Homo sapiens: one gene and its partners. The protein of the gene in region 3 purifies or fractionates together with the protein of the main gene of each other region. This does not show direct contact. Each region holds a gene or a part of one and is shown on either strand. Other genes may lie near its edges. The genes, in order: PHLPP2, RAD51AP1, USP46 and DMWD.

Evidence for each region.
Region 1: the proteins of USP46 (region 3) and PHLPP2 purify together in Homo sapiens (affinity purification with mass spectrometry; 6 studies listed by BioGRID and IntAct, with this or other methods). This does not show direct contact.
Region 2: the proteins of USP46 (region 3) and RAD51AP1 purify together in Homo sapiens (affinity purification with mass spectrometry; 4 studies listed by BioGRID and IntAct, with this or other methods). This does not show direct contact.
Region 4: the proteins of USP46 (region 3) and DMWD purify together in Homo sapiens (affinity purification with mass spectrometry; 7 studies listed by BioGRID and IntAct, with this or other methods). This does not show direct contact.

The regions. Positions count from the first base shown.
Region 1 is NC_000016.10:71,714,682-71,721,714, forward strand, and holds part of PHLPP2 (PH domain leucine-rich repeat-containing protein phosphatase 2), read right to left. Parts: intron 1,160-7,033; exon of another isoform or gene 873-1,159; intron 554-872; exon of another isoform or gene 121-553; 5' UTR 115-120; coding exon 1-114. UniProt on the Homo sapiens protein: Protein phosphatase involved in regulation of Akt and PKC signaling.
Region 2 is NC_000012.12:4,555,857-4,560,547, reverse strand, and holds the end of RAD51AP1 (RAD51-associated protein 1), read right to left. Parts: intron 4,196-4,691; coding exon 4,046-4,195; coding exon of another isoform or gene 3,998-4,045; intron 1,692-3,997; coding exon 1,555-1,691; 3' UTR 501-1,554; downstream 1-500. UniProt on the Homo sapiens protein: Structure-specific DNA-binding protein involved in DNA repair by promoting RAD51-mediated homologous recombination.
Region 3 is NC_000004.12:52,649,278-52,656,310, forward strand, and holds part of USP46 (ubiquitin carboxyl-terminal hydrolase 46), read right to left. Parts: coding exon of another isoform or gene 7,019-7,033; intron 1-7,018. UniProt on the Homo sapiens protein: Deubiquitinating enzyme that plays a role in behavior, possibly by regulating GABA action. May act by mediating the deubiquitination of GAD1/GAD67.
Region 4 is NC_000019.10:45,782,846-45,789,878, reverse strand, and holds the end of DMWD (dystrophia myotonica WD repeat-containing protein), read left to right. Parts: intron 1-3,007; coding exon 3,008-4,285; intron 4,286-5,163; coding exon 5,164-5,238; intron 5,239-5,588; coding exon 5,589-5,636; 3' UTR 5,637-6,932; downstream 6,933-7,033. UniProt on the Homo sapiens protein: Regulator of the deubiquitinating USP12/DMWD/WDR48 complex. Functions as a cofactor that promotes USP12 enzymatic activity.

The DNA of each region.
Region 1 (7,033 bases), on a different chromosome or scaffold from region 3:
TGCTCCATAAAGGTAAACACAGCCTCTCTTTACATCTTCTCTTAGCCAGTCTCTTTCTCGAGAACCAAACCTACTTCTCCTATTCAAACAATTTCTGCTCCCATTGCGTTTCATATTTCTCTAAAAAATATCAAGAGAAAGAAATCGTTAGCTAGAACATCTGACTGAATTAGACATTTCAGTCCTCACCCCACCTCTCTCTACTTTATATTCCCCAACATTCTGCTCAAGTATCCCCTCCTTTTGTGGAGCACTTCACATCTATCATGCTCATTCGTAATAACTCAGATAACTTAATTTTCTTTACTGCTGTCTGTGTTTCCATCCATCATCTTCGTTGACCTCTCTTTTCCTTGTGTTTTCAGAAACGTGTCAAGAATAACGAAACAGCGGGTTGCAGTGGCTCAGGCCTGTAATCCCAGCACTTTGGGGGGCCAAGGTAAGAGGACTGCTTGAGGCCAGGAGTTCAAGACTAGCCTAGGTAAGATGGCAACATCCCATCTCTACAAAAGAAATTTTTTTTTATATATTAGCCAGGCATGGTGGCACACGCCTGTAGTCCCAGCTACTTGAGGGTGGAGAACAGATTGAGTTGGAGAACAGATTGAACCCGGGAGATTGAGGTTGCAGTGAGCCGTGATTGTGCCACTGCAACCCTATCTGGGTGACAGAGCGAGACCTTGTCTCTCAAAAATAGAAATTTTAATATTTTGCCTGGGCACAGTGGCTCACATCTGTAATCCCAGCACTTTGGGAGGCCAAGGCTGGCGGATCACCTGAGGTCAGGAATTCGAGACCAGCCTGGCCAGCATGGTGAAACCCTATCTCTACTAAAAAATACAAAAAAATTAGCCAGCTGTGGTGGCACACGCCTGTAATCCTAGCTACCTGGGAGGCAGAGGTGTGAAGATTGCTTGAACCTGGGAGGCAGAGGTTTCAGTGAGCCAAGACAGCGCCACTGCACTCCGGCCTGGGTGACAGAGCAAGACTCCATCTCAAAAAAAAAGAAACTTTAGGCTGGGCAAGGTGGCTCACACCTGTAATCCCAACACTTTAGGAGGCCCAGGTGAGGGATCATTTGAGGTCAAGAATTCGAGACCAGCTTGGCCAACATGGTAAAGCCCCATCTCCACTAAAAATACAAAAAAAAAAAAAAAACAAAAAATTAGCCGAGTGTGGTGGCACGTGCCTGTAATCCCAGCTACTTGGGAGGCTGAGGTAGGAGAATCACTTGAACCCAGGAGGCAGAGATTGCAGTGAGCCGAGATTGTGCCACCGCACTCCAGTCTGGGCAACAGAGACTCTGTCTCAAAAAAAAAAAAAAAACTTTAATCTATAAACCATACACAGTATTGTCTTATCTAATTTAAACTTCATCTAATCCTTAACAATACTTATGTTTCACCCTGTAATTTTATTTAGTTCAATATTGCTTTAGAGATACAACTGTGTTAATATACCCAGTTCATTCATTTGAATAATATTCCCTTATACAAATACACCAAACTTTATCCACTCTCCTGTTGACAGCATTCAGTTTGCTTCCAATTTTTCACTGCTAGAAACAATCCAGCAATAAACATTTTTGTACATGTCTCCTTATGAAAATGTGTGTTTCTCTAGGGTCCTAACCCTTTGCTTTACATCCCAAATAAGCCAAGTGTAGTATCAACACAATACTGCACAAATATACTTTCCATTCCTGCCCTGTTTCAAAAAAAATTAATGTCGCATTTGATAATTTAGGTATGTGAAATTCATATATTGCCAAGTTATCTCAAAGCAAAAACAATTTCTACAGGTAATATAACAAGTTTCTAAAGATCAGCATTTGCCTGCTCTATTTTTATGATGGGCTATTTCTGTTCTTTTTGATAAAAAAGAAATTTCCACTGACATTTCCGCAGCCATACCTCTCCAGCTTCGTTCCCTACTACTGCCCTTTACTCCATGTTTCAATCACCTCCAACTACCTGCAGCTCTCCAAACACACCAAGTACACCACAATTCTGTGGCCTGTCTGAAATGGCTTTCTCCACCTCATCCATATGACAAGTTATTCTTCAAAATCCTACTCAGGCATCACCTTCTCTATGGAGCCTTCCATATCTCCTATCCTTATTCTCCCTAGACAGAATTAATGACTACCAGACATTTTTACTAGACAGAATTAATGAATTATCTAGACAGAATTAAGAACTTCTTCACCTTGAGTACACCTCTAATACTACATCGATGACAATGGGTTTTATTTATTTATTTGATATTTCTTCCTCTTCTCCATTTCTAGCATGTTAACACCTGGGTGACACAGAAGTGTTTGTAGAACTCAGCTGACATCACAGAAACCTATTCCCAATCTGTACCTTAGTCCAATTAGCTCTGGCAAGAAGCTGAACAAACTTGGGGGGGAAAATTCCCATTTCTATGGAGAACCCTACATCTTTGCAGCAGCTGCAAAGTGAATGGGAGTAAATAAAATACTTTCAGTAGTATTCCTCATTGGAAAATAGAAATACCTATAAATACAGCAAATACTATTTTTATAATTACTAAGATTAAATATTTGAGGGTAATACATTTCTAAAGATGTCAGAGAAAGAGGAATGAAAAGTTAGCAGGTATTTCTATGTGGGAAAAAAGAAAAACAAGAGTAAGAATGGCTTTATTGTTTAAATTTAGAACTCAGGAAAACTGATCATTTTGCAGATCTTGGGGATTTAGGCATTGCTATTCAAAACCATGAGGATTATTGAATCTAACTTTAGAGAAGTAGGATAAATCCCTGCTACAAGTGAGAACTAGTTTTCTCATCAAATGCATTTTCTCAAAGCTGAACATCTCAGAATGAAAGGGCTTTCAAGGGCTTACTGCATAAACATAGGGACCATCGTATTTGTACTAAGTAATTTTAACCACTGAATAGTCAAATACTGCTAATAGTTAAATATTTAGTAGGTAAATACTGTTAAATTTTAAATACTCCTCATTTTTTAATCTTTGGGAAAGATTAACTGGACCATCTGAAAACAGTATTCCATATAGTATAGCAATATTTATACAAAGCTCCGCATTCTCTACTCAGTGGAGAAAAAAGAGTAAGCAGACACTGTTTCACACAAACAAAAAAGTCGTCTTCAGAACAACTTTCTAAGGTCAAATAATGGTCCACTGACCTTCTAAATCTTAGAAAAGTCAAGGAAGACTCCAGGAAGTTTTGTTTGTTTTGAGACACGATCTCGCTCTGTCACCCAGCCTGGACTACAGTGGCGTGATCATAGCCCACGGCAGCTTCGAACTCCTGACCTCAAGTGATCCTAAAGCCTCAGCCTTCAGAGTAGCTGGGACTACATGCACATGCCACCACACCCAGCTAATTTTTTGTATGTTTTTAAGAGATGGAGTCTTGCTATGTTGCCCAGGCTGGTCTTGAATTTCTGGACTCAAGCAATCCTCCTGCTTGGGCCTTCCAAAGTGCTGGGATTACAAGCATGAGCCACCACACCAGGCCTGATTTTTCTTCTGTGAGGATTTTTAACAGTCATTTTTAGTGCATATATATTTACCTTAGATTATAAATTCCTTAAGGAACTTTACATTATCAAAACATATATGCGGTCGGGCGCAGTGGCTCACACCTGTAATCCCAGCACTTTGGGAGGCCAAGGCAGGCGGATCACAAGGTCAGGAGTTCGAGACCAGCCTGGCCAACATAGTGAAACCCCGTCTCTACTAAAAATACAAAAACATTAGCTGGGCGTGGTGGTGCACGCCTGAAATCCCAAATACTTGGGAGGCTGAGGCAAGGAAATCACTTGAACCTGGGAGGCGGAGGCCACAGTGAGCCGAGATTGCGCCACTGCAATCCAGCCTGGGTGACAGTGCAAGACTCTATCTCAAAAAAAAAAAAAACAAAACACATGCCTGTAATCCCAGCACTTCAGGAGGCCAAGGAGGGAGGATCACTTGAGGTCAGGGGTTCAAGACCAGCCTGGGCAACATAGTGAAACCGCGTCTCAAAAAAAATTAAAATAAAATAAAGATTAAAACAACAACAACAAAATATACACGCTGTTGGTCATCATTTACCTCAAAGGATCTATCTCCTGTCTACATGATACATTCCGCCCTAAGAAGATAAACTGCTAAGTTACAACTTCAGTATATATCATTCTCTTAAACCTGACCGATGGGCACTTAAAAGGCCTGGATATTAAGCAAAGCAAAGGCTTACAGCAACAATCTAGATGGACTGTTTAGCTGTTATTAGCCACTGCTGAATTGCCTAGTGCTTCCTTCTTCTCAAGAATGTCTTGCTCCACTGCTTAACACATCAGTTAACTGCTGGAAAAACCTTCCTAGGAGCCAGGACTGCAGATGACACGGTCCTCTGAGGTGCTTTCAACTTTTAGAATCACCATTCTACTGGAATTGCTAGGTTGAGAAAATTATTTTCCCCTTACTCTTATAGAATTGTTATCACAAATTTATTTGAAAGGGAACACAATGACAATTACCTCTTACATCAAACAAGTATACAAAGAGCGTATTTTAGATTTAAAGATCTTTCTAGCCGGGCGCAGTGGCTCATGCCTGTAATCCCAGCACTTTGGGAGGCTGAGGCGGGCAGGATCACCTGAGGTCAGGAGCTCGAGACCAGCCTGGCCAACGTAGCAAAACCCCGTCTCTATTAAAAATACAGAAGAATTACCCGGGGGTGGTGGCACGCATGCCTGTAATCCCAGCTACCCTGGAGGCTGAGGCATGAGAATCGCTTGAACACAGTAGGTGGAGACTGCAGTGAGCGGAGATCACGCCACTGTACTCCAGCGTGGGCTACACAATGAGGCTATCTCTCTAAAAAGTATCTTTTTTAATTTTTTTGGCATTAATTGTTTATACATACTTTGCTCAACACCCAAAACTATTCTTGAAAAAAAAAAAAGAATCTCATGACACACACCGACATTAGTTGTAACTTCGTATCTTCTATAAGCTATGGGCCTGGGTGACACAAGGAGACTCTGTCTTTAAAAAAAAAAAAAATCTTTCTAGAAGGCAAAAGTCTTGAGGGTAAGCCATGAATTAAATACCCACTGCTTCAATTTTACACTTTTGTTTGTTTGTTTTTTTGGAGACAGCATCTCCCTCTGTTGCCCAGGCTGGAGTGCCGTGGCACGATCTCGGCTCACCGCAACCTCCACCGCCCGGGTTCAAGCGATTTTCCTGCCTCAGGCTCCTGAGTAGCTGGGATTACAGGTGCACAACACCATGCCCAGCTAATTTTTTTTTTTTTTTTTTTTTTTTGAGACGGAGTGTCGCTGTTGTCCAGGCTGCAGTGCAGTGGCACAATCTCGGCTCACTGCAGGCTCCGCCCCCCGGGGTTCATGCCATTCTCCTGCCTCAGCCTCCCGAGTAGCTGGGACTACAGGCGCCCACCACCTCGCCTGGCTAATTTTTTGTATTTTTAGTAGAGACGGGGTTTCACTGTGTTAGCCAGGATGGTCTCGATCTCCTGACCTCGTGATCCACCAGCCTCGGCCTCCCAAAGTGCTGGGATTACAGGCGTGAGCCACCGCGCCTGGCCACGCCCAGCTAATTTTTAAAAATATTTTTAGCAGAGACGGGGTTTCACTATGTTGGCCAGGCTGGTCTTGAACTCTTGGCCTCAAATGATCCACCCGCCTCGGCCTCCCAAAGTGTTGGGATTATAGTAGTTAGCCACTGTGCCCAGCCCAGTTTTATACTTTTAACTCTAAAAGTGTTCCATGAGGGCAATGATCAGTTCAAAGGTGATATACTATTACACACTCACATACAATAATAAGATATACATGGTATAAACAGGGTCTGGTAAAGTAACTCTCCATATTCAGTTAGTTCTGCAAGAATGTGAAATACGGCCGGGTGCGGTGGCTCATGCCTGTAATCCCAGCACTTTGGCAGGCTGAGGCAGGCGGATCACCTGAGGCCAGGACTTCAACACCAGCCTGACCAACATAGAGAAACCCTGTCTCTACTAAAAATACAAAATTAGCCAGGCGTAGTGGCACATGCCTGTAATCCCAGCTACACGAGAGGCTGAGGCAGGAGAATCGCTTGAACCCGGGAGGCGGTGAGCCAAGATCGTGCCATTGCACTCCAGCATGGGCAACAAGAGCGAAACTCCACCTCGGAAAAAAAAACAAAAGACGAAAAAAAAAAAAACAATGTGAAATACTCTTAGGTAGAAGATGTTTCTGCATTCAAAACTTTAAAACAATATAGACTCATATCTGGGAATACACACGTTATTAAATATTGTGAAAGCGGTGGGGAGGGATGGGATGAGATAGAGAAAGAATATGTCAGCGCTTTAAAAATGTTTTGGGGCTGGGTGCGGTGGCTCATGCCTGTAATCCCAGCACTTTGGGATGCCGAGGAGGGACAGCCTTTAAGCCCAGGAGTTGAAGGCCAGCCTAGGCAACAAGGTAAGACCTCATCTCTACTAAAAAAACAAAACAAACAAACAAAAAAAAAAACGTGCCTATGATCCCAGCTACTCAGGAAGCTAAGGCAGGAGGATCACTTGAGCCATGATCGCGCCACTGCATTCTAGCCTGGGCAAGAGAGAGGCTCTGCCTCAAAAAAATAATAACAATAATAACGTTTTGGGCTGGGTGCAGTGGCTCATGCCTGTAATTCCAGTGCTTTCGGAGCCCAAGGTTAAGAGGATCACTTGAGGCCAGGAGTTTGAGATCAACATAGCAAGACCCCATCTCTACAAAAATAAAAATAAAAATTAGCCAGGCATGTGCCTATAGTCCTAGCTACTTGAGAGGCTGAGGTACTTGAGCTCAGGAGTTTGAACCTGCAGTGAGCTATGATCACACCACTGCACTCCAGCGTGGGCTACACAATGAAGCTATGTCTCTAAAAAAAAATCTTTTTAAATTTTTTTTGGCATTAATTGTTTATACATACTTTGCTAAACACCCAAAACTGTTCTTGAAAAAAAAAAAATGAATCTCATGACACACACCGACATTAGCTG
Region 2 (4,691 bases), on a different chromosome or scaffold from region 3:
GGTAAGACAAGTAGGTAAAGGTGACACAACAGATTAGAAAGCTGCAAAATAATGAAGAGTAGGCATGGAGATGGGAAGAAATGACAAAGAAATGTGTCACATGAGCCAAGGAAATCAAATGTTTTCATCAGAGTATAATGAATAGGGTGTATAAGATTAGGTGAGAAAATTGTACACTGGGTTTGGCAACATAAAGGTATCAGTGCTTTCAGCCAGGCTGGTTTTAACATACTTTGAGGTAATTTTCAAATCCCCTGATAAACTATAAAGAACACGGCAAAAACAGGTTATTGAGCTGGTGCCAGATGATTAATCAATTATATCAGTACCTAATATACAGTAGGCTCTTATGTTTATTGTTGATCTACACCAAATAGAGTACCTCAGTGCTATGTAACTGGAAAATATGTTTTTAAAAAGGGGACAGGTGGGGCAGGTTAGGGGGCTGGTATATGACACTATAAAAATATACGTTAGATAAAAGAAGTGTACAACAGCAATAGACAAATGCTCACTTTAATCACAATTCTAAATTAATTATTTTCACATTAATATAGATATTTCCATAAACCAAGAAAAACTGAGTTATTATACATTTTTTAACAGCTAACATGATTTGAAAATTTTTTATTAAAAATTGATCAGAAGCTAGTTGAAATTCTCAATGTAAATATAAAATATTCATTACAATTGTTTTTCAAAGTAAATTCAGATCTAAGCTTCCTGAAAAGCTGTACTATCTCATATCATAATAGGGATGACTAAGTACTTGACAACTACTTTCTAAAGAACTTAACAAAAAGTGACTACTTGAAGATTACATTTACAACAGAAAGGCTAACATTCTCTGCGGAGCTCTCATTTTATCATGAAATGTGGACAATCAGGAACACGTGGATGAGTGGTATCAAGAAAAAGGGCATTTCAAAATATTTCCACTTTTATTAAAGGTTTTGACAATGAAGATTTCATAAAATGTCTTTAAATACTATTTTCTAGAGAATAACCATCTAAATCGGAGACATATGCCATAAAACTGCAACCATTTTAGTGTGTAAAATAATTCTAAGTTTGTACTATAAAAAGATTTGGCTAAAATACAAAACATCTTTGCGATAAAACTGACAACGTAGCTTAAGTAGCTTATAAGATTTCAGAAATGTCTTCTGAAAGAAATAAGAATGTTTTCCTCTGCCAGATAAAACTGAACAGTTAAAGTTAAGGTGCTATAAACTAGACAAAGCTAGAAAGGCACATCATGTAACTAGAAAAGAACAGCATGTGATGTGGACTTCATGTCGAACTGATAGAAAAACAGAATACGCTCTTCACAAGGAAAGGTATGAGAAGATAATTCTTATAAACAAACTTCTCATTGAAGTCTTGAAGAGTTTTACAGAGAACATAATCATAAAATGGCTAGAGGTCATTTATAGGACATGGTAATGGATTCCTTTATATTACAATACCTGCCTCAAATATAAACACAAATCAAATATAAACACCCTTGTAAAGCTGTGATTCTCCCAACCAAACATTCCTCCTGTACCACACTCAGGTGCTAGTGGCATTTGGATGCAAAGGTTTAACTCGTGCTAATCTGGACAAGCCAAGGCGGAGACTCTGATTGGGAGACTTCACAGACACTACCACCAGTGGGCTGCTGCTACTTCTGCTACCTCCAGATGCCGCTGAAAGGAAACATATGATGTGATGCTGATGATGTCAGAAATCTCTTAACAAAGATTAATTTATAAAATAAGCAGCAAAAAAAAGGTAGTTAAGCATTATTCTGCTTTCCAGTGTCTATCAAGCAATAAACTAGATCAAAAGAACAGAATGTTCTAAAGAGCAGAAATTAATACAGTATTGCCTATTTCCAAACATCCCAGAAGCCAAGGTAATGACACTAAAACCTCACCATGAAAGCTGAAAAAGGAAGGCTGGGAACAAATAATGCTAGTTGTAAAGGCATACAAAAATGCATATAATTATAATTTCTAAAGTAATAGAAAAAGCAAATGCATTTTTAAGGTCCTGCAATTTTTACAAGTAGTCCTTGAAGAGTCTATTTTTCAATTATTAAATACCTTTAAAAATGGCAAATATTGTTATTTATTTATACTAGTTTCATTATACTATTATCCTAATGTCGCAATTATTTCCATCTATTTCAAAATTATCCACATGAATGTTCACAGTTGATGGTGACTGTAGTTGCTCGCCTACACAACAGTATTATAAATTTAAAATAAATAATTATACCTGCTACCCTATAACTCAGACTATACTGCTTTATTGTTTTCTAGTTTGAAAGGTATAAAATAGTATTTTATTTTAATTTACACTTCCTTAATTACCAGTGAGACTGAAACTCTTCATATTTTCTTGTTGTATTAATAGTTCTTGGGGACACTGTTATATTTATGCCTCTGGCTAATTTTACTTTTGGGGTCTTGGTGGTCTTCTCCAGTTGTATAAGATAGGTAACAAACTGGCAATCTGAGGGCCAAATCTAGCTCTCAGATATATTGTTTTGGTTCACATGGTGCTAACAACAACAACAAAAAAAATCAACTTACAAAAATTAGCAGATTTCATATTAAAATCTGGATTTCTGGCTTCTCTTGAAAACAGCAATCAGATCTAGAAATACCAAGCCCATAATCTTGCATGGAAACAATACGATGGAGCTGAGTAGCAGCTGCTTCCTTCAAAAGGGTACGCGCTCCTGAGTCCAACAAAATTCCTACCCACGCAAGTCTACTGCATGGGCCCAATTCACTCGTTTACATCACTTGCCTGACTGTCACATGCTGACTTGATAAGCACTTTGTGCTTGATGACATTAACTCTTTATCCATCATTCCACTGTTTCCTTGTATTTTTTTAATTATGCTACTTTTAAATTTCTATAGTTATATCACTCCATTTAAATTTCCTTCATTGGGGAAGCATTAATTATTTTTAGAAATATACTAAGTATTACTCTTTGAATGATATGACATCAAGTAATTAATCTTCCCTCCTTTCCTTCTCCAAAAAGTTTTTAAGTCCTCATTAAAAATCTTAGAAGTTGTAAACCAGAATGGACTTTAAAGATTACAGTTGTTCCCAATATTTCACATGATGAAATGAAGACTCTGTAAGTTAAGTAATCATGCAGCCTCACAGCTCACGCCTAAATCTATGAATAGTAGTCAGCAGGGGAGTGAGCACTGTGGACCAATCAAGAGAGGCCCCTCAAAAGAAAAACAGGAGTAGAATTGGAAGGGCTCAGGCAAGGAGAGGGGACACATGAAGAAAGACACACCAGGCAGAGGAGGATTAAGAGAGGCCCTGAGAGAGGCATACATACAACATGTTTGAGAGACAAAAAGTGTTTCAATTTCACTGAAGTGGACGGTTCATGCAGGTGGATGACAGAAAGTAAAGACAGGACTGGTTAGGAAAGGCAGCAACAATTTGGGCCTGGATTAGGGTTTTAGTAATGTCAAGAAGGGTGAAGGTCAAAGAATTCTTGAAGGATCCATGAGACTTGGCTGTGGAGCAAAAGAAAACAGAGAAGTGAAATTTGTGAAAGCAAGAGGTTGAGTTTGCTAGGGCATTTGTTAAATGCTAGAATTGCCACATATAGATCCCAAGGCTTCAGTCAGACTGTGGAGGTCAGCAGGTCCTGAGCAAAAGATTTGCTGCCAGAAATACATACTTCAGGAATCTCAAATGTTTACACCCTTTAACACTGTAATTTTCCTACTAGAAATTTTATCCTAGGAAAATAATCAGTAATATGCCCAGAGATTTCTAAAATAAGGACATTTGCACTTATTGCAATCTTATTTATAGCACTGAAAAAATAATAAACCTGGATGTCCAATAATAAGGAATGGTTAAATAAATGAATATATGCAGCAACCAGGAACTTTGGTTTTGAAGAATATGTAATAATATGGGGAAATGCTCACACATGATGTTTGTAACTAGGAAAAAAATTTACCAGTGATAATTTTCCAAGCTCCTGTCCTTGATGATAAATATGCCATACCTGGTGGGACCCATTTAGGTTTCTTGCTTTCAGCTGAAGGACTGCGTATTTCTAATGGTTTCCTAGTGGTATCTGAAGACAGAGAAACCTTTTTTGGCAAGGACTGAGATTCTGATTTGACGGCAGCTGGAGCAGAGTCCACCGAAGTCACTTATTTGAAAAATATACGTAAAAATGTTTGTCATGCAGGAAGAAAAAGTAAGTCTAGCATATATGTGTAAAAATTATAAAGTTACATAATCATATAAAAAATAAACTTATTAATCAACAAACATTTATTGAGAGCCTAAGAATAGCCATCTTTTATGAGCATTAATATGCCAGGCAGTGTGGTAGGCATATCACACACATTACCTCTAACTCTTTACAACAACTCCAATACAGATATTACTATCCCCACTCTCAGAGAAGGAAACAGAGACGTTAAGCAATCTGCCTGTAGTCTGACAGCTAGTAAGCATCTAAGCTTAGAAACCAGATTTTCCTCCAAAATCCCATCCTTGTAACTAACCATTACACAATAGTGTCTCGTGAGTATGTGTCAGTGAGATTATGTGTCAGGCTCTAGGGTTAGAAACATGGCTCCTGCTCCCAAGGACTTTAAGGTTTAGTCACTAGACTTCAGTGGGAAGAACAGGAAAGTAAA
Region 3 (7,033 bases):
GAAAACTAACAAGCATGAAGGCATCATAGCTCACACAGTGCTTCCATGGGCAGGATCTCTTCTGATGCTCCCCAAAAAGCTTTAAAGAAGGTATTTCATTGACTACCTTTGTTGTAAAAAGATAAATAGGATCTGAGATTTACCAAACAGGATTCTGAATTCCAAACTCCTCCACTTTACAACTATATGGAAAATAGAAGTTGTTTTGTTTTTCCCAAAGCCTTGCTGCTCTAAAAATGGTCCCGAAACCAGCATTATCTGTACCACCAGAGAGTTTGTTAGAAGTGCAAAATCTCCGCCCTGCCCCAGACGTGCTGAATCCAAATTGACATTTCAACTAGACCTCCAGCTAATGCCTATGCATGATAAAATTGGAGGCATACTGCTTTACTCCAAGGCAATTCTTCCATTCTACCAAATTACATCCCTTCATTCATTTATCAATATTTATTTATTGAGCACCAACCACATATGTGCTAGGCACTGTGCTGACAGCTGGGAAATCAACACTGAATAATACAAATAAATACAGTTCCTGCCCTCATAGAGTTGTCAGTCTAACATGGTGGTTTATCAACCTTGGATGCTCACATCGGAATCAACTGTGGCACTTAAAATACACACACACACATACACACGCAGGTGCCTAAAATTCACCCCAGACTACCTATATCTACATACTGTCAGAAACGCTGGAGACTGGGACCCTAGAAACTGCATGTCAATAAAGCTCCAATTGGTGGAACCACTTTGGAGAGCAATTTGACACACCTAGCAAAGCTGCAGATGGGCGCATCCTAAAAGCAGCATATTGACTTCCAGGATTATACCCTAAAGAAATGAAGACACCTGAGCAAAGAAGACAGAAGCAAGAACATTCGCTGCAACACTGTTTCCAGAGAGAATATTGTAGAAACTACCAAACTGCCCCTAAATAAGAGAATGAATAAGTAAACCATGGTTAAGTCAAAGAATCCTGTTACAGAGCAGTCAGAATGAATAAACTCGACCTCTATGTGTTGACATAATCTCAAATATACTTGTTGAGTAAAGAAAGACAGTTGCAAAAAGCTACACGATTTTATCCACACACAAACGTTGCAATCCATTGCTTATGAATTCATAAATACAAAGTAAAGTATAAGACATGTTTGGTAAACACCATATCAACTTCAGGAAAATGGTTTGCTCTGGGAGGAAGAGAAAGGAAAGAGATTGGGTTGAGTTAGTGTCTGTTTTTAAGGTAAAAGAGTCTAAAAAGAGTTAGTGCTGTTTTTACAGTAATATGTCTAAAAATAAAAGTAACCAAATATGGCTACATTTTAATATCTGTTAAATCTGAAGGGTAGGTAAACATATATAACATTATTTTTTCATGCTTTTTTGTATGTTAATGTTTTGTGATTTAATTATTATTTTTAAAATTTCTTTTAAAAGCTTCACAGGTGATATGATATAAAGCCAGTGCTGAAAATCTCTGTTCTGAATATATAAACTAATACAAAACCTGGCTATTTAATACCAAGAAAAAGTTAAGTTGGCCGGGTGCAGTGGCTCACGCCTGTAATCCCAGTACTTTGGGAGGCCAAGGTGGGCGGATCACGAGGTCAAGAGATCAAGACCATCCCAGGCAACATGGTGAAACCCTGTCTCTACTAAAAATACAAAATTAGCTGGGCAAGGGGGCACGTGCCTGTAGTACCCTACTCAGGAGGCTGAGGCAGGAGAATCGCTTGAACCTGGAAGCAGAGGTTGCAGTGAGCTGAGATCATGCCACTGTACTCCAGCCTGGCAACAGAGTGAGACTCCATCTCAAAAAAAAAAAAAAAAAAGAAAGAAAGAGAAAAAAGAACAGAAAAAGTTAAGTTACTAGCTTAAATAATTTTACATTCATTTTTTTAAAAACTTTCACATGGCAGGTAATTTCTTAAGCAATATTTTTTAAGAGGCTGAGGTTATTACCCAAGGGAAGCAATATTTCTCCAAGCATGGTCCTCAGCTCACCTATAACAGAATGTGGAGGGAGTAGAAGGAGGAGGGAACACTAATTTAAAAGGCAGATTCCAGAGCCCCAACTAAGACCTACTTAATCAAACTCTCTGGGTGTTGAACCCCAGAGTCTAAATTTTTAATAAGAGAATGCACATGTGGGAACCATTCTTTGGTACACCAAAGAACCTAAAACCATACATTTCTTTGTTTAATGAGGTAATACTCATCATACTCTGAAAATTAAAATGAAGTGTAGAGAATACTTTCTAAATATTTAAGACAGTAATTCCACCAGTATATATTCAAGCAGATCCAGATAAAAATTTTCCTGCACTGTGTACCTAACCTGAAGGACAGAGAAATGTATTTTAGGAAGATGACCATCGTTTCACAATGCCTTTCTAAAAGAACTTGAAAAAGCAACTGGGTAAACAGGAAAACTCTGCAAGTCCAGCTTTGCTGCTGTTCTCACCAGAACAGGCCCCAGACACGATTTTCACTAAAGCCAATGTCAATTAAACAAAGCAAATGTGGCTTGAACAAGGCCTTGCTGGCACAGGCAGGTCTCCCAAATTTACTCTCAAAATTCAAGGTATCTTCTCAGTGCTACTCTATTATCTTTTTGTTACTAGTTTTCACCCCTCCACAGTGATTATCTTGTCATCATTTTTTTCACCTGCATCTTCCAATCCATCCCTACCTTTCATGACTTTTGCTTTGGTCTCCTTGATTTTCCTCTTCACTGTCCCTTCTTCATTGTCCCTGTTTTCAGACAAAACCAAAACTACAATCCTGACTTTCAAGACCTGGAAAACTGTTCTCAGGCCCCTGAGTTGAAAACAAACCAGCATAACAAACACATGAAAAGATGTTCAACCTCCCCTAGCAAACAGGAAAAGTGCAAATTTTAAACCACAAAGGCACAATGTCACACCCATCAGACTGGCAAAACATCAAGTCTAGCAATATCAAATATCTGCAAACATGTGAAGCAACTGGAACCCCCAAACGCTGCTTGGTTGGAATGCAAATTGGCATAACTTCTTTGGAGAGCAATCAGGCAACTTATTAAAGAAGACGATCAAATTCCTTTGACCCAGCAATTCCCTTCCAGGTTTACACCACAGAGAAACTGTCAACTGTCAACTGTGTATACTATACACAGGGAGATGAGTTCACAACTGTTCATTGCATTAAAACAGCACACTCACAAATTTGTAAACCTGCTTACAACATTAAAATGAATGTGTCATAGCATATTTATATAATGGAATGTTATACAGCAGTTAAAATAAACTAGGATTATGTGTCTCTCAATGGATAAATAGCAAAATCACAATTTAAACAATAAAAGCAAACTGAGAGGAATGTTTAATATTATAAAGCATGTTTAAAACATGAAAAAATACACTATATCTAGTTTATGAATGCATACAAATCTAGTAAAAATATAAAAATATACAATAAACACTAAATGCAGAATAGTGGTCACTCTGTGGGGAGAGGCAATGAGATCAGGAAGGACTCATAGGTGGTTTTAAATGTATATATAGTATTTTATTTCTTCACTGGGTGGGGAGTACACGAGTATTCACTCTATTATTCCACATTTCTGTATGTCTAAAATTCACCATCACTCAGAAAAAAAGGCAAAGTCTGAGCTAATTTAAAAAGTATCTGAGGGTTCTAAAAGTGACATTGGAACTTGAGGAAGAAAAGGAAGGTTGGCCCTATGAGGGTAAAGTGAAGCTTTGGCGACCACAGAGTCCCATCACCATGATCTTAAAACTATCCATTGCAAAGAATCATTCTGAGAATTGGGGTAAACTTCCATGTACAGCACTTACAGCATCCCTCAAACTTCAAGCCATAGTCCCAGAAGAGAAATATTCCAAAAACCCTTTACTGTTAGGGTTGTTCGCTAACACAGAGTTCGTCTCAAGAATGTTTTCGTGGCAGGGCACAGTGGTTCACACCTATAATCCTAGCACTTTGAGAGGCTGAGGCGGGCGGATCACCTGAGGTCAGGAGTTTGAGACCAGCCTGGCCAACATGGTGAAACCCTATCTCTACTAAAAATGCAAAATTAGCCAGGCATGGTAGCAGGCAACTGTAATCCCAGCTGCTCAGGAGATTGAGGCAGGAGAATCACTTGAATCCAGGAGGCAGAGGTTGCAGTGAAGCCATCGCACTCCAGCCTGGGCAACAAGAACAAAACTCTATCTCAAAAAAAAAAAAAAAAAAAAAAAAGATTTTGCTGATTGATTTTTGGGTGGCCTTTTCTCTTAAAGACCACCAAGGCCTTTCAAACCCTTAGATCAGCATTTGGTTCCACCACAACTGAAGGTTTGTTATAAGAAGCTGCATTAAAATAATTAGACCAGAAAAGTTAACTAGACTAAAAGACACCATCTTTTACATCTCTTCCAGTTAGTTAGCTTTGGGTGGCTTCATGGGTAAGCTAGAGATAGAGATAGGTGGTTACCAAATACCTTTCTGATGATACCACAGAATTTAATACCATCATGGAACCCCAATCTATTCACACTAACTAGAAAGACCAGGAGGGGGAAAAAAAAGACATCTGAGCTAGAGAAATTTCTCTTAATTGCTAAGAGAATCAAAATTGAAAATGCCTTTCAATTATAACCCAAACATACCAAAATTCCACTTAGTGAAGAATAAATAAACAGATTTTATGGTATGAGTGAACTGAAGCACATAAAGTTGTTATACAGAAAAGGTATCATAATCTTTCATTCTAACTAAATACCAGCATTCAACTTTGTTTTCTCTGAGGAGTCCAAGAAAAACAGAAAAATCCGCAGAACTAATTGTCAGGTCCCGACCTAATATAAACCTCTGCATATGAGACCAGTGGGGCCAGAAAAACAGAATTTCTTTTCTTTAAACATTAATCCACCTCACCTCAGACTGTATTTTCTAATCCCAGCAACTATCAGAGTAGACCCTCATATGACTTTACACCTAGCTGATATATTAACTAAACTTATAATTGCCAACTATCTTTGAGAATGGAAAGCATGAATAACAGTAACAGAGGAAAAGGCAAGATATCTGTTCCCCCAAATCACAAGATGGACATATTTTTTAATAATTAAAAAGTTGTTTCCAACCATTCTCAAAATACTTGCCTTAGGTAAGTAGTTGACTTATCAAGATAAAACTATAAAAATACTCTAGTTTTGTTTCAAAATTGTAATGTTTACTTTCCCTTTATTTCCAGATAACTTCATTTATTTATATGATACATTTTTATTTACATGATTTTGTTTGTTTCTTTTTGGTAGAGATTGGGTCTCACTATGTTGCCTAGGCTGATCTTGAATTCCTGGGCTCAAAGAATCCTCTTGCCTCGGCCTCCCAAAGTACTGGTATTACCAGTGAGCCACCATGCCCAGCCTACCTCATTTATTTAAAAGAACTAAAATCTGGCACTCAAACTGATGTCAAAAATTATCCTGAGGCTGTTCTACAGACGCTAAAATGCTAACATGTCATAAGTTCAATACAGTTTTAAACAAGGTAGTTAGGTAATGAAGTGGTTGCTAACCAATTAAGAGGTGCAGATTTTCATAAAGCCTTTATCTAAGGAATTCTACCATGAAGTTTTTCATGACCAAAAACAGAAAATCAGTTTTACAAGATGAGAAAAACTAAGGTCTCCGGAAATACAACAGTTTGCCCAAAAGCACCATTAGATTCATGCTTAACTGGAGAGACACCCAATGGTGCAGATTTCAATTCTAACTCACATTGACTACAATCATGTCCTCATATAAAATAAAAGCCAGAAGCAGAATGTGTATACAACTTTGGTCAAACGAGAATGTATTTTTGAAATGTCCTGTTGTGTTAATCGGTCTTTCCACTGTACAGCTGCTGGGAGTTTATTCAACTTCTATCTGTGCTGATATAACACTGTATTGAAATTGTTTCATCTTTACCAATGTTAACACCCACAAGATAAGGAACAGCTGAGCCCCTTGGGGACAGGGACTCACCTCATTCATTTATTAAGCACTTGAGTATAGTCTGTGCCAACACCAACATAGCAGGTCCTCAACAGATGGCCATTTATCGGAACAAAACTCGTAATCATTTGATACACAGCATTTTCTCAGAGGTACATCTTACAGCATTATTAACAAATGAAATAAGATTAGATGATCTGAAGCAACTTGCATTGGTATGTCACATTTGGTTTCTTCTAACTAATGCTTCCTTTTTAGAAAATTTCTCAAGCTCTTCAAATAGGAAACTTAAAAAACCCAAAAACAAAAACTTTCCATTTGCAGGGCCATAAAAATATATAGGAAGTTAAATCCATTGGTCTGGACAAAAATCAGAGGATTATCAACAGAAGACATTTCCTCATGCTTGGTAGCAGCTAGTGCATTATGAAAATTACAACACACCAGCCAAACAAGCTTTACTATCTCTGAACCACACACTGCTGTGTGGCCAAGCTGCCTTGCCCTGAGCAAGTTCATCAAGAATTACCATGGCAGGAATTCACATGGAAGAAAAATTAAAACAAATAGAAACTAGTACTAAACTTCCAGTGAACAATAAAACTTCAGCAAGTGGGTGGGTAAGTGGAGGAATGAAGATATTTTCCAAGTTTCCTATAACTAAAACTGGCACAAGAAGTATGGGGAAAAGAGGGGATGTTTAGTTCTCAATCACACGAAGTATCTGCTACAAATTTGATTTCTGCTCTGCTGGGTCCTTTCTTATCTGGTGGAGGAAACAAATCCACTTTCAATGATAGATCTTCGTTTTTTCCTGTTACCCAGAAAAATGGTACCTTCTAATATCCTTTCTGAACACATATCAGCCTGTTCAAAATATGTTAAACGATGTGCTTAAGAAAAAAATGCAATCACCATTTGCTCTTACTACAACTACTCAAACCAGCTGGGACCAAAGTTAGGAGCGGGAAGGGTCAGTAAGAGGCCCACAGAGGAGCTAAGCAGTGAGAAGGGACCTGTAAGACACCTACCTGAAAACAATTCAT
Region 4 (7,033 bases), on a different chromosome or scaffold from region 3:
ACACCCGGCCAATTTTTGTATTTTTGGTAGAGATGGGGTTTCACCATGTTGGCCAGGCTGGTCTCAAACACCTGACCTTGTGATCCGCCCACCTCGGCCTCCCGAAGTGCTGGGATTACAGGCATGAGCCACCGCGCCCGGCCATTCTTTGAGTTTTCATCAACCAGTGGATACAGAAGTGTGCTGCCCATTTTGCAGATTAGAGAATTGAGGCTAGTAAATAAGTCGGGACTTAGTTGATGCCCTTGCTCTTTGAGTTCTGGGCTCTGGAGGCTTTGGATTCAAAGCCCTGCTGCACCATTTACTCATCATGTGACTTTGGGAAGGTGACCATTCTCTGAGCCTCACTTCTCCTCCTCTGCAAAATGGGATTCCAGTTCCTACCTTGCAGGACCGCTGTTGTAGAATCATACATGGAGATTGCTCAGTCCTGGGCCAACTTGGCCTACGAGGAGATACCAGTAAACGACCTTATCCGCGGGCAGGGACTGCTCTTGGCTTCTGTCTCATTCTCTCTGGTCCAGAGGAGGTGTTCCATAAATATTCTCAGAATGAGTGAATGGCTGAAGGGAGTGAACGGAACAGTCAGTGGATTAAAAATTCATTAGCTCATCCATTCACAAATAGTTTTTGAGCATCCGTTCTGTGCCAGGCACCGTTCCCAGCACTAGGGATATCACATCTCAGGGCCCTGGACAGGAGGCCCTGCCCTTTTGGAGCTTTCAGTCTAGCTGGGGAGACAGACAGTTAATCAAGTTAAGTCTTCGTGTGTCAGCAGGTGATTAAGGCCTGTTTAGAAGAAGCAGTGGGGAAGGGGCTGAGGGAAGCTTGGAGAGTTTAGTAGGGTGGTCAGGAAAGCCCTCACTAAGAGGTGATACTGAAATAAAGACCTGAAGGAGGCAGGTGAGAAGAGTTGCCTGGGGAAGGGCATTTTTTTTTTTTTTTTTCCTGAGATAGGGTCTCACTCTGTCGTCCATGCTGGAGTGCAGTGGTACGATCTTCGTTCACTGCAACCTCCGCCTCCCAGGCTCAAGCAGTCCTCCCATATCAGCCTCCTGAGTAGCTGGGACTACATGCATGCACCACCACAACTGGCTAACTTTTGTATTTTTTGTAGAGGCGGGGTCTCTTTGTGTTGCCCAAGCTGGTCTCGAACTCCTGGGCTCAAGCTATTCTCCTGCTTTGGCCTCCCAAAGCGCTGGGATTATAGGCGTGAGCCATCACACCCAGCCAAGAAGGACATTCTGAGTATCGGGGCCAGCTAGGACAAATGCAGGATTGCACAGAAGCCGTGTGGCCAGTGCAGTTACTGAGGGAGAGAAGATGGTAGATGAGTTCCAAGAAATAACGGAGGGGCTGGCTCATGGAGAGTCTGGAAGGTCACGGAGAGATTTTGCCTTACTCTTAGTTGGAAGCCTGTGGAGGAGCCTTTCTCATTGGGGCTCACCTGAGCCCTGGAAGGCAGAAGTGACTAGAGTGATTATTTGTTCAGTTCTCCCAGGGATGGGAGGCACCTCATCCTGGGAGAGCAGCTCCTTAGTTGCATACACTGGCTGCCTGAGAGCATTAGGGCCTCAGGCTCTGGAACCCTGCTTGAGAGAGGCTGCGAAGTGTTCAGAGCAGGACAGTGCCAGGTGCTGGCTGATACTTCACAGAGCATCGCTGTGGCGGCTGCAGAGGACAGACAGGCCCAGGCATTGGAGCCTGAGGCCAGTCACACAGCATTGCAGGCTTGGGGTGGTTGAATGGGATGGTGAGAGGAGGTCAGATTCTGGGTGTATTTTTTCTTTTTTTTTTATTTTGAGGTGGAGTCTCGCTCTGTCGCCCAGGCTGGAGTACAGTGGCATGATCTCCCCTCACTGCAACCTCCGCCTCCCGGGTTCAAGCAATTCTGCCTCAGCCTCCTGAGTAGCTGGGACTATAGGCGCCCGCCACCATGCCTGGCTAATTTTTGTATTTTTAGTAGAGATTTTGTATCTCTACTTGTATTTCACCATATTGGCTAGGCTGGTCTGGAACTCCTGACTTTGTGATCCGCCTGCCTCAGCCTCCCAAAGTGCTGGGATTACAGGCGTGAGCCACCACGCCCAGCCACTTCTGGGTGTATTTTGAAGGTCGAGCCCACAGGATTTGTGGAAGGATTGGATGAGGAAAAGAGGGGCAGATGCCGAGGTTTTTTGTCTAAGCACCTAGCGGGATGGGGGGTTGTCACTCATTTGTCCAGGAATTACCTTCAAGCTGCCTCCTGTGTGCACTGCTTTAAAGAATAGTGAACCAAACAAAGATCGCTTCCTTTGGGGAGCTGCCTTTCCGTGAAGAAATTTCCTACTTGAAGCCTGACGTAGTAAAGATCGGGGGAGGGTTAGACAGATACAGTGGTCCCCAACCATTTTGGCACCAGGGACTGGTCTTATGGAAGACAGTTTTTCCACAGACTGTTGGGGGGATGGTTTTGGGATGAAACCGTTCTGCCTCTGATCATCAGGTGTTAGATTCTAATAAGGAGCGCACACCTAGATCCCTCGCATGCATAGTTCATGGTGGGGTTCGCACTCTTACGAGGATTGAATGGTGCGCTGCTCCGGTAGGAGGCTGGGCTCAGGCTGTAATGCCTGCTCGCCCACCACTCACCTCCTGCTGCATGGCCTGGTTCCTAACAGGCCACGGACCACTACTGTTCCATGGCCCGGAGGTTGAGGACCCCGAGATACAGGACAATTCTGTGGCAAGCAGGACTGTCCCCTCGCCAAAGATGGGACATCGAGGCTCCTTGGAGCACCCTGTGGCCACCTTGCAGCAGCCTCTGTTTCCCCATGTTTCCATGACCTGGTGTCCATCTGTCTTCCCCAGTTTGGGAGCTTCTCTCCGAGGAGGACCTGGGCCTGGTGTGGCACCTGCTGTGTGAGCGGGGCCATGTCCAACGGCCTTCTTGGGGACTTTGGGTCGGGGAGAAGTTCTGCCTGGGTTTTACTGCCTTCTCCCAACCCCACACTGTCTCCCCTGGCAGCGGTTGATCGACAAGACCAAGGTGACATATCTGAAGTGGCTGCCTGAGTCGGAGAGCCTGTTCCTGGCATCACACGCCAGTGGCCACCTGTACCTGTACAACGTCAGCCACCCCTGCGCCTCGGCCCCGCCCCAGTACAGCCTGCTGAAGCAGGGCGAGGGCTTCTCTGTCTATGCTGCCAAGAGCAAGGCACCCCGCAACCCGCTGGCCAAGTGGGCGGTGGGTGAGGGGCCCCTCAACGAGTTCGCCTTCTCGCCCGATGGCCGGCACCTGGCCTGTGTGAGCCAGGATGGCTGCCTGCGCGTCTTCCACTTCGACTCCATGCTCCTGCGTGGGCTCATGAAGAGCTACTTTGGGGGCCTGCTGTGTGTGTGCTGGAGCCCTGACGGCCGCTACGTGGTGACGGGTGGCGAAGATGACCTGGTCACCGTGTGGTCCTTCACCGAGGGCCGCGTGGTGGCTCGAGGCCATGGCCACAAGTCCTGGGTCAACGCTGTGGCCTTTGACCCCTACACCACAAGGGCAGAGGAGGCGGCGACAGCAGCCGGTGCTGATGGGGAGCGGAGCGGCGAAGAGGAGGAGGAGGAGCCCGAGGCTGCGGGCACAGGCTCGGCCGGGGGCGCCCCGCTCTCTCCACTGCCCAAGGCTGGCTCCATTACTTACCGCTTTGGCTCGGCGGGCCAGGACACGCAGTTCTGCCTGTGGGACCTCACTGAAGACGTGCTCTACCCGCACCCCCCCCTGGCCCGCACCCGCACCCTCCCTGGCACACCTGGCACCACGCCACCGGCCGCCAGCAGCTCGAGGGGTGGCGAGCCTGGCCCAGGCCCCCTGCCTCGCTCGCTGTCCCGCTCCAACAGTCTCCCGCACCCAGCTGGCGGGGGCAAGGCGGGCGGCCCGGGTGTGGCGGCAGAGCCTGGCACACCATTCAGCATTGGCCGCTTCGCCACGCTCACACTGCAGGAGCGGCGGGACCGGGGGGCAGAGAAGGAGCACAAGCGCTACCACAGCCTGGGCAACATCAGCCGGGGTGGCAGTGGCGGCAGTGGCAGTGGTGGGGAGAAGCCCAGCGGCCCTGTTCCCCGCAGCCGCCTGGACCCCGCCAAGGTGCTGGGCACTGCGCTGTGCCCGCGCATCCACGAGGTGCCCCTGCTGGAGCCCCTTGTGTGCAAGAAGATCGCCCAGGAGCGGCTCACAGTCCTCCTGTTCCTGGAGGACTGCATCATCACTGCCTGCCAGGAGGGCCTCATCTGCACCTGGGCCCGGCCGGGCAAGGCGGTGAGTGGCCCCACACCAGCCTGCCGGGGACCTGGCAGGACCTTTCGTGGGAAGAGGCAGGCATTGGCAGAGAGAGGGCTTTGTTGCTGTCACAGCCTCTGGCTCCGTGGGGTGAGGGGAAGCCAGGGAAATCTTAGTGTCTCAGTACAAGACCTCTCAGATCCTTAGAGTGAGGGGGTCTAGCCCTAGGCAGCAGGCAGCAGAAAGAGGGGTGGGTGTGAGAGCCAGCTAGGAATTGGGGCATCCAAGGCTGGCCGTCTGAAGGGCAGCAGATGGGCCCCACATGGCCAGGTCTTACTGCCTGTCACTCGAACCAGAATCTATTTCTGTTGAACATCTGTTTTTTAAATCGTGAAACTTTTTTGAGTACTTCAGGCCAAAACTAGGGGCGAGCTCAAGCCTGTGGGCATGGCTGCCAGCCTGGGTCTGGGACTCAGGATCTGAGCCTCCTGCTGAAGGCACAGGCTGGGAATCCCAGGCCTGGGTTCCAGTCCCACTCCCTCTGTGACCCTGGACAAGTCACTGCCCCCTCTGACCTCCAACTCATCACCTCTTAGAACAGAGCCTGTAGGATGGGCAGTGGGTGGATGTGCTTGCCTCCTGGGTGGGCTGTGGCGTTGGGAAGGTCATAGTAGGCGAATCAGGCCTGGCATCTTGTAAGTTCGGAGCTCGTCTTGGGTGTCTCAGCTTCTTAGGGCTTGGACTCAGTTGCCCAGGGTCCTGGAGGCCGTGGCTTGGTTCCTCAGATCCTCAGTTTTGGAATCGTAGAGTCCTGAGTCCCTAGAACTTGAGAGCACAGTCTGAGTGACTCAGAGGCAAGAGTGGTGGGATTTGGGGAGTCTGGTTGAGTCCTAAAAGAGACCCCTCTGTCTCCGTAGTTCACAGACGAGGAGACCGAGGCCCAGACAGGGGAAGGAAGTTGGCCCAGGTCACCCAGCAAGTCAGTGGTAGAGGTAGGACTGTCCCTGAGTTCTTTCCCCAGCACCTCAGGGTCCCTCCCAAGTTAGAAGGGAGCTCCAGTTTCCCCCTCCCCTCCCACCCTTACCCTTACCCCATGGTCTCACTCAGGATCCGCCAAGGACTTTGATTATTGCGTGAAAGTGCTGACTGCCAGGACAGGAAGCTAGCTAAGATGCAAGTTCCCAGCCTAGAGCAGTGGCCTCTGGGGGGTCTAGGGCGGACCCAAGGGCAAGGCCAGGGTGGCAGCAGCTTTGGGGACTCTGGGCTGGCTCCCTCCCCTTGACACTGGCTGAAGCCCAGGTGGTCTCTAACCCCTCCCATCTCTCCCTCTCATCTTCCCCAGGGCATCTCCTCCCAACCAGGCAACTCCCCGAGTGGCACAGTGGTGTGAAGCCATGGATATCGGGCCCCCCCAACCCCATGCCCCCAGCCTCCTAGCCATAACCCTCCCTGCTGACCTCACAGATCAACGTATTAACAAGACTAACCATGATGGATGGACTGCTCCAGTCCCCCCACCTGCACAAAATTTGGGGGCCCCCCAGACTGGCCCGGACACGGGCGATGTAATAGCCCTTGTGGCCTCAGCCTTGTCCCCCACCCACTGCCAAGTACAATGACCTCTTCCTCTGAAACATCAGTGTTACCCTCATCCCTGTCCCCAGCATGTGACTGGTCACTCCTGGGGAGAGACTCCCCGCCCCTGCCACAAGAGCCCCAGGTCTGCAGTGTGCCCCTCAGTTGAGTGGGCAGGGCCGGGGGTGGTCCAGCCCTCGCCCGGCCCCCACCCCAGCTGCCCTTGCTATTGTCTGTGCTTTTGAAGAGTGTTAAATTATGGAAGCCCCTCAGGTTCCTCCCTGTCCCGCAGGACCTCTTATTTATACTAAAGTTCCCTGTTTTCTCAGCGGGTCTGTCCCCTTCGGAGGAGATGATGTAGAGGACCTGTGTGTGTACTCTGTGGTTCTAGGCAGTCCGCTTTCCCCAGAGGAGGAGTGCAGGCCTGCTCCCAGCCCAGCGCCTCCCACCCCTTTTCATAGCAGGAAAAGCCGGAGCCCAGGGAGGGAACGGACCTGCGAGTCACACAACTGGTGACCCACACCAGCGGCTGGAGCAGGACCCTCTTGGGGAGAAGAGCATCCTGCCCGCAGCCAGGGCCCCTCATCAAAGTCCTCGGTGTTTTTTAAATTATCAGAACTGCCCAGGACCACGTTTCCCAGGCCCTGCCCAGCTGGGACTCCTCGGTCCTTGCCTCCTAGTTTCTCAGGCCTGGCCCTCTCAAGGCCCAGGCACCCCAGGCCGGTTGGAGGCCCCGACTTCCACTCTGGAGAACCGTCCACCCTGGAAAGAAGAGCTCAGATTCCTCTTGGCTCTCGGAGCCGCAGGGAGTGTGTCTTCCCGCGCCACCCTCCACCCCCCGAAATGTTTCTGTTTCTAATCCCAGCCTGGGCAGGAATGTGGCTCCCCGGCCAGGGGCCAAGGAGCTATTTTGGGGTCTCGTTTGCCCAGGGAGGGCTTGGCTCCACCACTTTCCTCCCCCAGCCTTTGGGCAGCAGGTCACCCCTGTTCAGGCTCTGAGGGTGCCCCCTCCTGGTCCTGTCCTCACCACCCCTTCCCCACCTCCTGGGAAAAAAAAAAAAAAAAAAAAAAAAAGCTGGTATAAAGCAGAGAGCCTGAGGGCTAAATTTAACTGTCCGAGTCGGAATCCATCTCTGAGTCACCCAAGAAGCTGCCCTGGCCTCCCGTCCCCTTCCCAGGCCTCAACCCCTTTCTCCCACCCAGCCCCAACCC